Linked DNA regions of Homo sapiens: region 1 is linked to region 2. A link means that fine-mapping ties the variant in region 2 to the expression of a gene that starts in the linked region. Tissue or cell type: subcutaneous fat. Region 2 holds a variant in brackets; the other region holds the start of a gene. All regions are shown on one strand. Distances are from middle to middle.

Region 1 (5,000 bases), 21 kb after region 2:
TAAGGGCCCTCTGGGAAATTGGGGGATGGCAGCTTATGGTTTCTGGAGAGATTCAGAGGCAAGAGAAACCTTCCTCTGGCCAGCTTGGATGGTGGAGGCAGGGGTGGGACAGAGATGAGACACTGCAGAAAGATCCTTCCTCACCTTCCTTTTGAGTCGTTCATGGAGAAAAAAGCACTTGTTCCATCCACCCATTCATTCATTCCACAACATTGCTGAGTGCCTACTAGAGACAAATGACAGAGTCTCTGCCCACCACTAATAAAGAAGCAGGGCAGGCTGACCATGGTGGCTTACCCTGTACTCCCAGCACTTTGGGAGGCCGAGGCAGGAGGATCGCTCGAGCCCAGGAGGTCGAGGCTGCAGTGTGCCATGATTATGCCACTGCACTTCAGCCTGGGTGACAGAGCAAGACCCTATGTCATAAAAAAAAAAAAAAAAGAGGCTGGGCGAGGTGGCTCACTGTAATCCCAGCACTTTGGGAGGTCGAGGTGGGTGGATTGCCTGAGGTCAGGAGTTCAAGACCAGCCTGGCTAACATGGTGAAACCCCATCTCTACTAAAAATACAAAAAAAATTAGCCGGGTGTGGTGGCGCACACCTGTAGTCCCAGCTACTCGGGAGGCTGAGGCTGGAGAATCGCTTCAACTCAGGAGGCAGACGTTGCAGTGAGCCGAGATCACACCATTGCACTCCAGCCTGCGCAACAGAGTGAGACTCCGTCTCAAAAAAAAAAAAAAAAAATAGGAAGAAGGCCAAACATCTATGACAAGTGGATAACAGAGGCAAGTACAGGGGAAAGGAAGAAGGAGGAGGAAGAAGGGAAAGAAGGAGGAAGAGGAAGAAGAAAGAAAGAAAGAAAGAATAAGGCCAAACATCCCTGACAAGTGGATAACAGAAGCAAGTACAGGGGACAAAGGGAGTACATAGGCTGTGCACTAAATTCACAGTAGGAGGAATCAGGGAATGCTTCCTAGAGGAGGTGACAGATGAGTAGGCATTAGCCATGAAGGTGGGGGGATATGGGGAGAAGGCATTTCAAGCAGAAGGAATAGTACATGCTAATACAGCCCTTCCGAAACTCCAATATGCCCATGCAGATTCTAATTCAGTAGATCGGGTGGAGGGGCTGAGATGCTCCACTTCTAACAAGCCCCCTGTGATGCCAATGCTGCTGTCCTACCCCTGCACCCCCTCCCATCCACACATACTCTGAGTAGTAAGGTACTAAGGTGTGAGTACACAGTGTGGGAAATTGTACACTTGTGGAGAGTGGCCAGAAATAAGGCTGAAAAGCAGAAGTCAACTCATGCTTAGGCATTGGGATTTATTTGGGAGGAAGTTTCTATCAGTGAATGCCTGATTAGATTTGTTATTTAAAAGGATCACTTTGGCTACTCAGGAGGCTGAAGTGGGAGGATTGTTTGAGGAGTTCAAGACCAGTCTGGCCAACAGAGCAAGACCCCATCTCTAAAAAAGTAATTAAAAATACTTTACTTTTTGTTTGTTTTAGAAATAGGGTCTCACCCTGTTGCCCAGGCTGGCATGCAATGGCATGATCATAGCTTACTGCAGCCACAGGTACCTGGGTTCAAGTGATCCTCCTGTCTCAGCCACCTAGGACTACAGGTGTGCACCACCATGCTCAGCTAGTTTATTTTTATTTTTTAGAGATAGGATTCTGTCTCTATTGCCCAGGCTGGTCTCAAACTCCTGGGCTCAAGTGATCCTCCTGCCTCAGCCTCCCAAAGTGGTGGGTGTGTAGGAGAGAGGTGAACACGGCCTTATCTAAGACAGTTGAGTGAGGATGGTGAAAAAGAAATGGAATTATTTTGAAGAAGGGAAAATCAGCTGGGCATTACCACTGATTGAATGTGTGGAGTAAGGAGAGAAACAAAGATCAGTTGACAAATCAGTACACGTCAGGGACCTGGTCATCCTGAGTGTTTCAGCCTTCTAGCACCCCTTTTCTCCCCCATGCACTCACATCTTCTCTGACAGTTCCCCATCTTCAGGGAAAGTCAAGTTCCGCTTAGTGATAAGGGCTTCAGTGATGCAGACGCCCCCTTCCTCTGGACCCTGGGCTGACTTCCCTGTGAAAAGATGAGTCCAACTGTGACACTTCCTCACTCTTGGAGGCCTTACCCCGCTGTTTTCCAACTGCTCTACCCACCGTCCCACCTCCCTACTCACCTCCAGACATGATCTAAAATAAAAGGCTGCTGGTCTGAGGCGGGAGAGGAACGAAAAGAGAGGTCTTGGCGGCCCCTAAGGATGGCAGAACTCAGGATGGCAGGAGGAGAGAGAAACTCAGAGACTTAGGAGAGGAGGAAAGGGGGTTGATTCAGAGAAAATTGCTGGGGTGAGGTCGAAGAAAACAGTAAATTGATGTGAAGGGTCTGGAGTTTGAGGGGTGTGGAGGGGCTTTGCTGGCAGCAAGCTGGGGTGTTGTGGGCAGGAATGGTTGAGAAAGGAGCAGTTCCTAGGAAGCCGGAGTCGTTGCTAAGAGACTGGACGCCGAGTGGGGAGGTAAAGGCGGGCTCCGTTGGCCCGGCCTAGCGCATGCGTCTTACGGCTACAGCCGGCGGGTACGCCCACTGCTTCCGGCCCCGGGGTTCGCTACCCCACAATCCTTAGCTCTTTCCGTCTCCACTCGGCTTCCGTCCATTCTTCCGGTGGAGATGGCTGCGGCCGTGGCGGGGATGCTGCGAGGGGGTCTCCTGCCCCAGGCGGGTAAGGAGTGGCCCAGGTCCTCACGGCGTGTCTTGCGGCCGCTCTCTAGTCCTCATCTGCCCTCCTCTACTACTGATTCTTCCCATAATCTCTGACCCCAGCTAGATCGCTGGCCTCCTTACCCCGTCCAGTTCCTTGTGACTCGACTGGTAATCACAGCAACAACGTCCAGATGTTGTCTGTCTCCAGCGTTTCTTTTGCCTGGACCACTCCTCGCCCAGACCTTTGCATTATGTCTCCATCTTAATGTGTCAGTCTAAATGTCACCTCAGGTCTTCCCTTGACTCCTTAGCCCCGTCGCAATCTGTAATTTTGCATTTGTTTAGTTGCTTGTTTCCTCTATTAAACTCCGCAAGGGCAGAACCATGTTCATTCAGCATAGCCAGCAGGTGGCATGGTGCTGGATGTTAGTAAGCGTGCGGTAGATATTTGTTTAGTGAATGGATTTGAGCACTTAATATAGGCCAGGCACTGTGATAACTATTTTTATATGTGTTAGCTCATTTAAATCTTTTAAATCATTTAAATCTAAAGCACCCTGTGAGAAAGACATTCGCATCTCCTCTTTACAGACGCAGCAACTGAAGTTCAGACCAGTTGGGTGGCCAAGGTCACAGCTAGTAATTGGCGGAAGAGAGATTAAAATCCAGTTTCGGCTGGGCGCGGTGGCTCACGCTTGTAATCCCAGCACTTTGGGAGGCTGAGGCGGAGGGAACACCTGAGGTCAAGAATTTGAGACCAGCTTGGCCAACATGGCGAAACCCCAACTCTACTAAAAATACAAAAATGAGCCGGGTGTGGTGGCGCGTGCCTGTAGTCCCCGCTACTCAGGAGGCTGAGGCGTGAGAATCGCTTACACCCAGGAGGCAGAGGTTGCAGTGGGCCGAGATCGCATTGCTGCACTCCAGCCTGGGCAACAGAGCGAGACTCCATCTCAAAAAAAAAAAAAATCCAGTTTAATTTGATTCCAAAGCCTGCCTGCAGTCTTAACAGTTAGGTTTTGTGGCTGCTGGCAATAAGACCTCTTACCCCAGCAAATATCCATACTCTCTGACTGTTAGAGCCGCCTTCTATCTGGACCTTTTTCTGAGGTCACATCCCAGTCTTGGAAATGACTGAAAGTGGGAAGTTCTAGTCTTGGCCCTTGTGTTGAGGATTAAGTGGTCACTTTGTCTCAGGGCTTTTGAGTGCCTCCCTTGTTTTCTGTGGGGTGCTCTGTAGCATTATCTGTAAACAGGAAGAGAGGAGGAAAGAGAAACTTGTCTGAGAGCTGTGAGAATGGTGTAACATTTTTTTCTCCTCTTCAAATCATAGGACAGGGTGTCAGAGCAGCGGTTAGAGTGGTGGTTTTCAAACTTTAGCATGCGTCAGCATCACCAGGAGGGCTTGTTAGAACACTATTTGTGACCCGTCTTGGTAACATAGTGAAACCTGGTCTCTACAAAACAAAACAAACAAAAAACACTATTTGCTAGGCTCCACCCCAGAATTGCTGATTCAGTAGGTCTAGGCAGGGCCTGAGAATTTATGTTTATTTTTCTTTCTTTCTTTCTTTTTTTTTTTTTGAGACAGTCTTGCTCTGTCACCCAGGCCGGAGTGCCGGAGTGCAATGGCACAATCTCGGCTCACTGCAACCTCTGCCTCTTGGGTTCAAGCAATTCTCATGGCTCAGCCACCTGAGTAGCTGGGACTACAGGTGTGTGCCACCACGCCTGGCTAATTTTTGTAGTTTAGTTAGAGACGGGGTTTCACCATGTTGGCCAGGTTGGTCTTGAATTCCTGACCTCAAGTGAGCTGCCCACCTTGGCCTCCCAAAGTGTTGGGATTACAGGCGTGAGCCACCACACCCAGCAAAATTTCTAACAAGCTCTCAAATGATGCTGATGTTGCTGGTTGGGGTGGAGGTGGGGCATACCTTGAGAGCCACTAGATTAGACCAGGGGTTGGCGTATTATGGCAGGGCCAGTCACTGTGTTTTATAAAATTCTATTGGTACATAGTTTCTGCTGTCTCTTTAAATATTGTCTGTGGCTGCTTTTGGCAGAGTTGAGCATTAGAGACAGATTACATGGGCCCCAAACTTAAAATATTTACTGTTTGACCATTTTAAGAAAAAGTTTATTTAACCTTATCCCCTTTTTCTTTCTCTCTCTCTCTCTCTCTTTCCTTCCTTCCTTCCTTCCTTCTTTTTTTTTCTGAGACGGAGTCTTACTCTGTGCCCAGGCTAGAGTGCAGTGGCATGATCTCGGCTCACTGCAACCTCCACCT
Region 2 (5,443 bases):
TGTTTGTTGAATGAAATAAAGGATGAATGAAAGAAAACTATTTGACCCCAGCTTTAGGCTCTATCTGGTTTTCTAAGAATCAGGAGAGTATGGTGGGGAGAGGAGGGGAAATAAGGAATATGTTGGCATCCAGGGTCATCAGCTTGCAGGCTTGGAAGTGCAGCCCGAAGGTGGGAGTGGGAAATGGAGGAGAGGAGTGAGTGAGAAGAGGAAAACAGGACCAGACTCTGGTCTGGTCCCAGCTCTGCTTCTAACTTGCTACTAACGTCCCTGTTTTGGGGTTTGGTTTCCCTACCAGTAAAACGAGGGCTTGGACGAGACAATTTGGGGCTAGACCAGCTTTGATATTCTCATAGTGCAATCTCTACAGGACAGTTGAAGTTTGGAAGGGATCACAAGTGTAGAGTCTGACTTGTCTCAGCAATTCAAGATGGGATCAGTTTGTCCATTAGACTCAAGATAGGAGATGGCTTTGATCTAGGGATTCATTTAAGAATGCTGTTTCCTCCACCTTCAGGCTCTAGGGGAGCCAGACTTCCAGGGTCATCAATTCTGCCATATTGAGGCCAGATGGACTAGTAGGCAGAATACAGGCTTTGGAACCTGAGAGATCTGAACTCAGTTTCTTCTTCTGTCTTTTAACAACTCTGTAATCTTGGGTAGATCATTTAACTTCTTTGATCTTTGGCTTCCTCATCTGTACAACGGGAATAATAATAATTACTTTGCTGCATGCCCATGAGAATTAGAGATATTTGTGTAAAGCATCTGGAACATAGTAGGTGCTCAGTAAATAAATGCCGTTTGTGATAAACACGCAGACTAATGAGATTTCTCCAGGTACAAAGTGGATCACTGACTATAGATGAAGCTTGAGAAGAAGAGGGGTGGCAGGAATGGGGGTTGGACACTTGCAGGGGAAATCTGACTATTTATTTGAGAGAATGAGGAAGAGCAGCAGAAATGGCCCAAGTCCAAGACAGATCTCAGTTTATACAGGAGATGTGATGGGCTGTGTTGTTCAATTTTGAGTAGCAATAAGTATATGGGCAATGGGCTGTGGTGACCTTGCTCATTAAGTTAACATCAGACCATGCGCCGTCATTCGGTGGGAAAACATTTAGCAAGTGGGAAACCAAAAGGGCTGGAAGCAGAGGACTGCAAGTAGAGGGGGACTGGAGGAAAGATAGTGCCAGTACCCTGAGTGAGCAGCAGAAACCTAGGCAGAGCAGGAAATCAGAATGGCTGGGAGTTTCCAGAGACAACTGCATTGTTGTTGAATTTCCTGCTGATGAGCTGCAGGCAGATGGAGGGTCTTTGCTGGTGGAATTCCAGATGGCTACAGGTCTGGTTGGATCGGGGCAGGGCTAAAGGGGGCCTAGAGTGAAAGTAGCAGGGAGTGTCTACCATCCTCGGGCTGAATCCCTGTTGCTTTCCAGGGAAAAGGCAGAAGGGGCCAGGAAGAGAAGGCAATCTGATGCCTATAAATGGGAGGGGAACTTGGTCCCCTACCCAGAGTCAGACCCCTGCACAGGCTTTAGCACCTTAGGAACAGTAGATGCAGCACCAGCAGGCAGCTTGGAGGAGGAGGCAGGAATGCCCAGAGGTCAAATCAGGAACCAGAGTCCCCCACTGGGGGCTCTGTTTTGGACCTGATGAGTGTCTACTCCATTCCAGAGGTAGCTGTGAACTAGGATACAAACCCAACTGGCCAGGATTTGTAGGCTGAATGGATGGAGACAAAGCTGCGTTGATGAAGAGGATTGATTGTCAAATTAGCCATGGCCACAAAGATCCAGAGCAGTTCCTGTGAATCCACATCCAGAGCCCCAAGTAACAAGAAGGCAAAAAGCAAACCCCGACTGATCAGAAATCTCAATCCCCCGATGTCAGGCGGCATCTCCGGCTTCCAAATACCTGTCACTTCTCTAGCTTGGTGGCTGCTTTTACAGCATTTCACCAAGGAAGAAACTGAGGCTTAGAGGCACCTGACCTGCCAGGGTCAGTTTAGCAAGTGCAGGGCTGGGGCTAGAATTTAAATCCGTCAACTTCTAGTCCACAGGTCTTTGTGCATACACCTTAATCCAACCAATATTTACCTGGAACTGACTTATTTAATAATTATAACAAGGATATCTTCCATTTACCCGGCGCTTACCAGGGGCCCCTTGGGCTAAGCATTTTTAGGCATATCAATTCCTTTAAGCCCCCAGGAGACCCTACCAATGTGTACCCAGGTTGTCCGGATGAGGGAAATGAGCCTTAGAAAAGAGGGAGATGCACAGATGAATCCGACGTCGATTCTGGAT[A/T]AGAACGTGTGCGTGTCTGAGGGGTACCATGCACATACGCATACACACATGGATTGATTTTCACCCCGCTTATGCACTCGGTTTAGCTATTTTTGAGTTACAGTTTGAGTGTGTCCCAAACGGGCATGCAGGACAGGTAAACCAATGGCGGGGGGGAGTAGGGGCTGTAGAGGCGAGATTAAATCAGCCTAAATTCAAGTATGAAATCGACTGTAAAGAGGAAAACGAAATTTTAAAAAGCCGACGGCAAAGCGCACAGAGGAGACGAATCTGAAAAATGAAAGAAATAGGGAAATTAATCTGCATTCCCCTGTGAAAAAAGGGGTCACATGGAGAGATCAACACTGCGGCATGGGAGTGAAGCATGGGGCCACCTCAGCGGCCAGGCAGAAGAATGCGTGGGTGGAGGACGGAACTTCCCTACCCACCGGTGCTTTGCGGGTCTCGGAAATGTCGACCCATCCAGATCTTGAGGGAAGTTTTTGTGAGCTCCGCGAGCGCGCTGAAATTTTACCAGAATATTGCACTGGGCATGTGAATTTTTCTCAAAGGAATCCAAGACCCCTCCCCAAAGTTAAGAACCTTGGGTTTAGTTATTCTGGTGAGAATTAGAAAGGAATGGTGGCAAGGGATAGCTCAATTCCTTCCAGAAGTGTCCCTTCCCAGGGCCATTCAGGCGCCTGCCCATTCTTCAGAACCGGGTGCTCGGGGGCGAGGGTGTGCGTAGGCTGAGCATTTCCCGAAGGACAGGAGGGCGAGGAGAGGCGAATTTGAGAGGTGGATTTCTTAGGCACTGGGGTTGCTACCTAAGGGGAGGGGCAGAGTGACAGCTGCTGGGACCTGGGACCAGAGTAGGGGGGAAGCAGAGACCGGTGGTGGGCAGAGGCTGGGAGAGGGGAGGAGAGGAGGTGGTCACCCAGAAAGGTCAGAGAGGGATACCCCGGAAGGGAGAGGGAAAAAAGGACGGGGAAGGGTGGTGGTGGAGAGAAGCGGCGCGGGGTGCGGGGGGTGAGGCAGGGCAGGGGACGGGGGTCGGGGGTCGGGGGAATGGCGAAGGAGGGCAGCCAAGACAAATTTCACACGGCCTAGGCCTAGAGGCGAACTGGAAACATACTTGGCGCTCAATCTTGTTTCCTTCTTTCCTCCCAGTTCCGGGGCAGGGCTGTCCGTTCAGAGAGGGTCAAGGGCCATCGAGGCAACCTAAGGGTTGCTGCCTAAGGGTGGCTCTGTCTCACCCCCAGGACCTGCCCCCTTATCCATTCCCCCTGGGTCTTAGTCCTGCGTCCTCTGCTAGACCGAGCTAGCTCCAGGGCAGTTTTCCACCCGGCGGGGCGGGTCTTAGAACCTGGGAATCACCCCACCCGGGCCCCTCTCCCTGGGAGTGGAGGGGACCAGGGAGGAGCGAGGGAGCGGGCGGCGCACGCCCTAGTTATCTTTCCTCCCCCACTCCCGCCCACCCCCTCCTCGCGGCCCTGGCTGGGCTCCGGTCCAGCCGAGCCCTCAAGGGTTAAAGGCGGCCGCAGGTGAGGTGGGCGGGGCCGCGAGTCCGGGGGAAAAAGCAGCGCTGGGGAGAGGATGAAGGCAGAGAGCGCGGGTGAGTCACGGGCGGAGCTGGCCTTGTTCGCTCGCTGGCTCCTGCCCGCCCTCCGTCCTCCGCCCTCTCGCCAGCGCTCACCTCCGCCGCCTGCCGCCTGCCGCCAGCCGCCGGGTCTGGCTCGCCCTGGGCTCCTGCCCCTTACCGCTGGAGAGCTCGCCGGCGCACAGGGCCTATGAGCGACCGTCAGTAGCGCACCAGCCAGCCGTGCCCGGAGCCCGCCGCAGCCTCGAGGTAGGAGCGCGGGTCGGGGTGGCCAGGGGTGAGCGCTACGGAGATTGTCTCGAAAAAACGCACTCCGAACGCGCCCCAGCCTCCTATGGCCTTGGGAGCGGGGTGGTCCTAAAGGATCTGAGAGGTTAGAACCCCGATGGAGGGAAAACTGGGCGGACGGGAGAGACTGGAGGGACCGAGGAGGCTGGAAACCGGGGCAACTGGAGCGACTGGGACAACCAGAGGACCGGGACATTGAGAACTGGGAGTACTAGCCGGTGATCCAGAGAGGCAGAGCCGAATGGGGCATAAGGGTGCACCGACTTGCCTTCCCACTTCGGGGAGCGAGAAGCCTGCGATGTACGCTGTGCTCTCTCCTTTCCTGAACTCTTTCTAGGCCTGGAAGTGAACCGGACACATACTTGGCACTCAATCCTGTTCCCTTCTTTCCTCTCAGCTCTGGGGCAGGTGGGTCAAGGACCATAGAGGCAACCTAAGGGTTGCCACCTAAGGGTGGCTCCATATCACCCCCAAGACCTGCCCCCTCCTCTATTCTCCTGGGTCTTAGTCTTGCATCTTCTGCTAGACTGAGCCAGCTCCAGGGCAGTTTTCCACCCAGTGGGACTGGTCTTAGAACCTGAGAATCACCCCGCTTTGGGTTTCTGAAATCTTGGTAGCAGGCCATTGCATCCCAGGCCTGGGCTCTCCAGCTCTCTGCCAGGAGAAGCCACTCTGGAGCCCAGATTATCCTAGCCTTCCCATCCTCCAGCCCCTGGGGCAGTTCCCAGGCACCAAAAGCTGTTAGGGTCCCTGGCTTCACAGCTCCCGCTCAGCCCCTTCTGTGCTGCCCCACCCCGGCCTGGGGCTCCTTTCCTGCAACTTCACCCTGTTTTCCTCTTGTGGTGAGGCAGCCGGAGCCTGAGTAGGTGCCCCCGTCCTCCTCTCCCTCCCTCTCCCAGGCTATCAGTGCCACCTCCCTGGTCCCAGAGGCAGGAGATGGTAGGGTCAGCTAAGCCCTGCTGTAGGAAGGAAACAATCCTGCCCTAAGTCACTGGTCTCCTCCCCCACCAGTAGAGAAGACCCAGGCACACAAACCTGCCCAGCTGAGGCACCAGGGCTTCCAGGCCTTAGGGAGAGGTGGTGAGAAAAGAGTGAACTTCAAGCCACAGATATGTGGTTGAGAAAGCGTTGGGGGTCTTTAGCGTTCTAAGGGTCTACAGAAAGATTGGTTTACAGAAAGTAACAGACTGAGAGTCCAGGAGTTAGGAGACCTGGTTTATTGAATGAATAAATGAACATCCTTGTCCAAGTCACTGTGCCAAGTCAT

Alleles and levels. Alleles are on the strand shown, and positions count from the first base shown. SD is a standard deviation of normalised expression in the study named.
With allele T in place of A in region 2, the expression in subcutaneous fat of the gene that starts at base 2,651 in region 1 is lower (small effect, 0.21 SD a copy in GTEx).

What was found.
Region 1: MRPL10 starts here. The variant in region 2 is fine-mapped to the expression of MRPL10 in subcutaneous fat (GTEx, PIP 0.92).

Annotation. Positions count from the first base shown.
Region 1 is chr17:47,829,192-47,834,191 of GRCh38, reverse strand. It overlaps MRPL10 (mitochondrial ribosomal protein L10), which reads left to right and starts at 2,651. Exons shown (of 5, transcript NM_145255.4): 1 at 2,651-2,732. The coding sequence starts at 2,681. It overlaps LRRC46 (leucine rich repeat containing 46), which reads right to left and starts at 2,522. Exons shown (of 8, transcript NM_033413.4): 1 at 2,193-2,522; 2 at 1,987-2,092. The coding sequence starts at 2,202. RefSeq lists silencers at 2,486-2,645, 2,886-2,945 and enhancers at 2,408-3,237, 3,238-4,069.
Region 2 is chr17:47,849,613-47,855,055 of GRCh38, reverse strand. It overlaps SP6 (Sp6 transcription factor), which reads left to right and starts at 3,893. Exons shown (of 2, transcript NM_001258248.2): 1 at 3,893-4,137. RefSeq lists a silencer at 1,073-1,264. The variant A/T (reference allele first, on the strand shown) is at 2,310.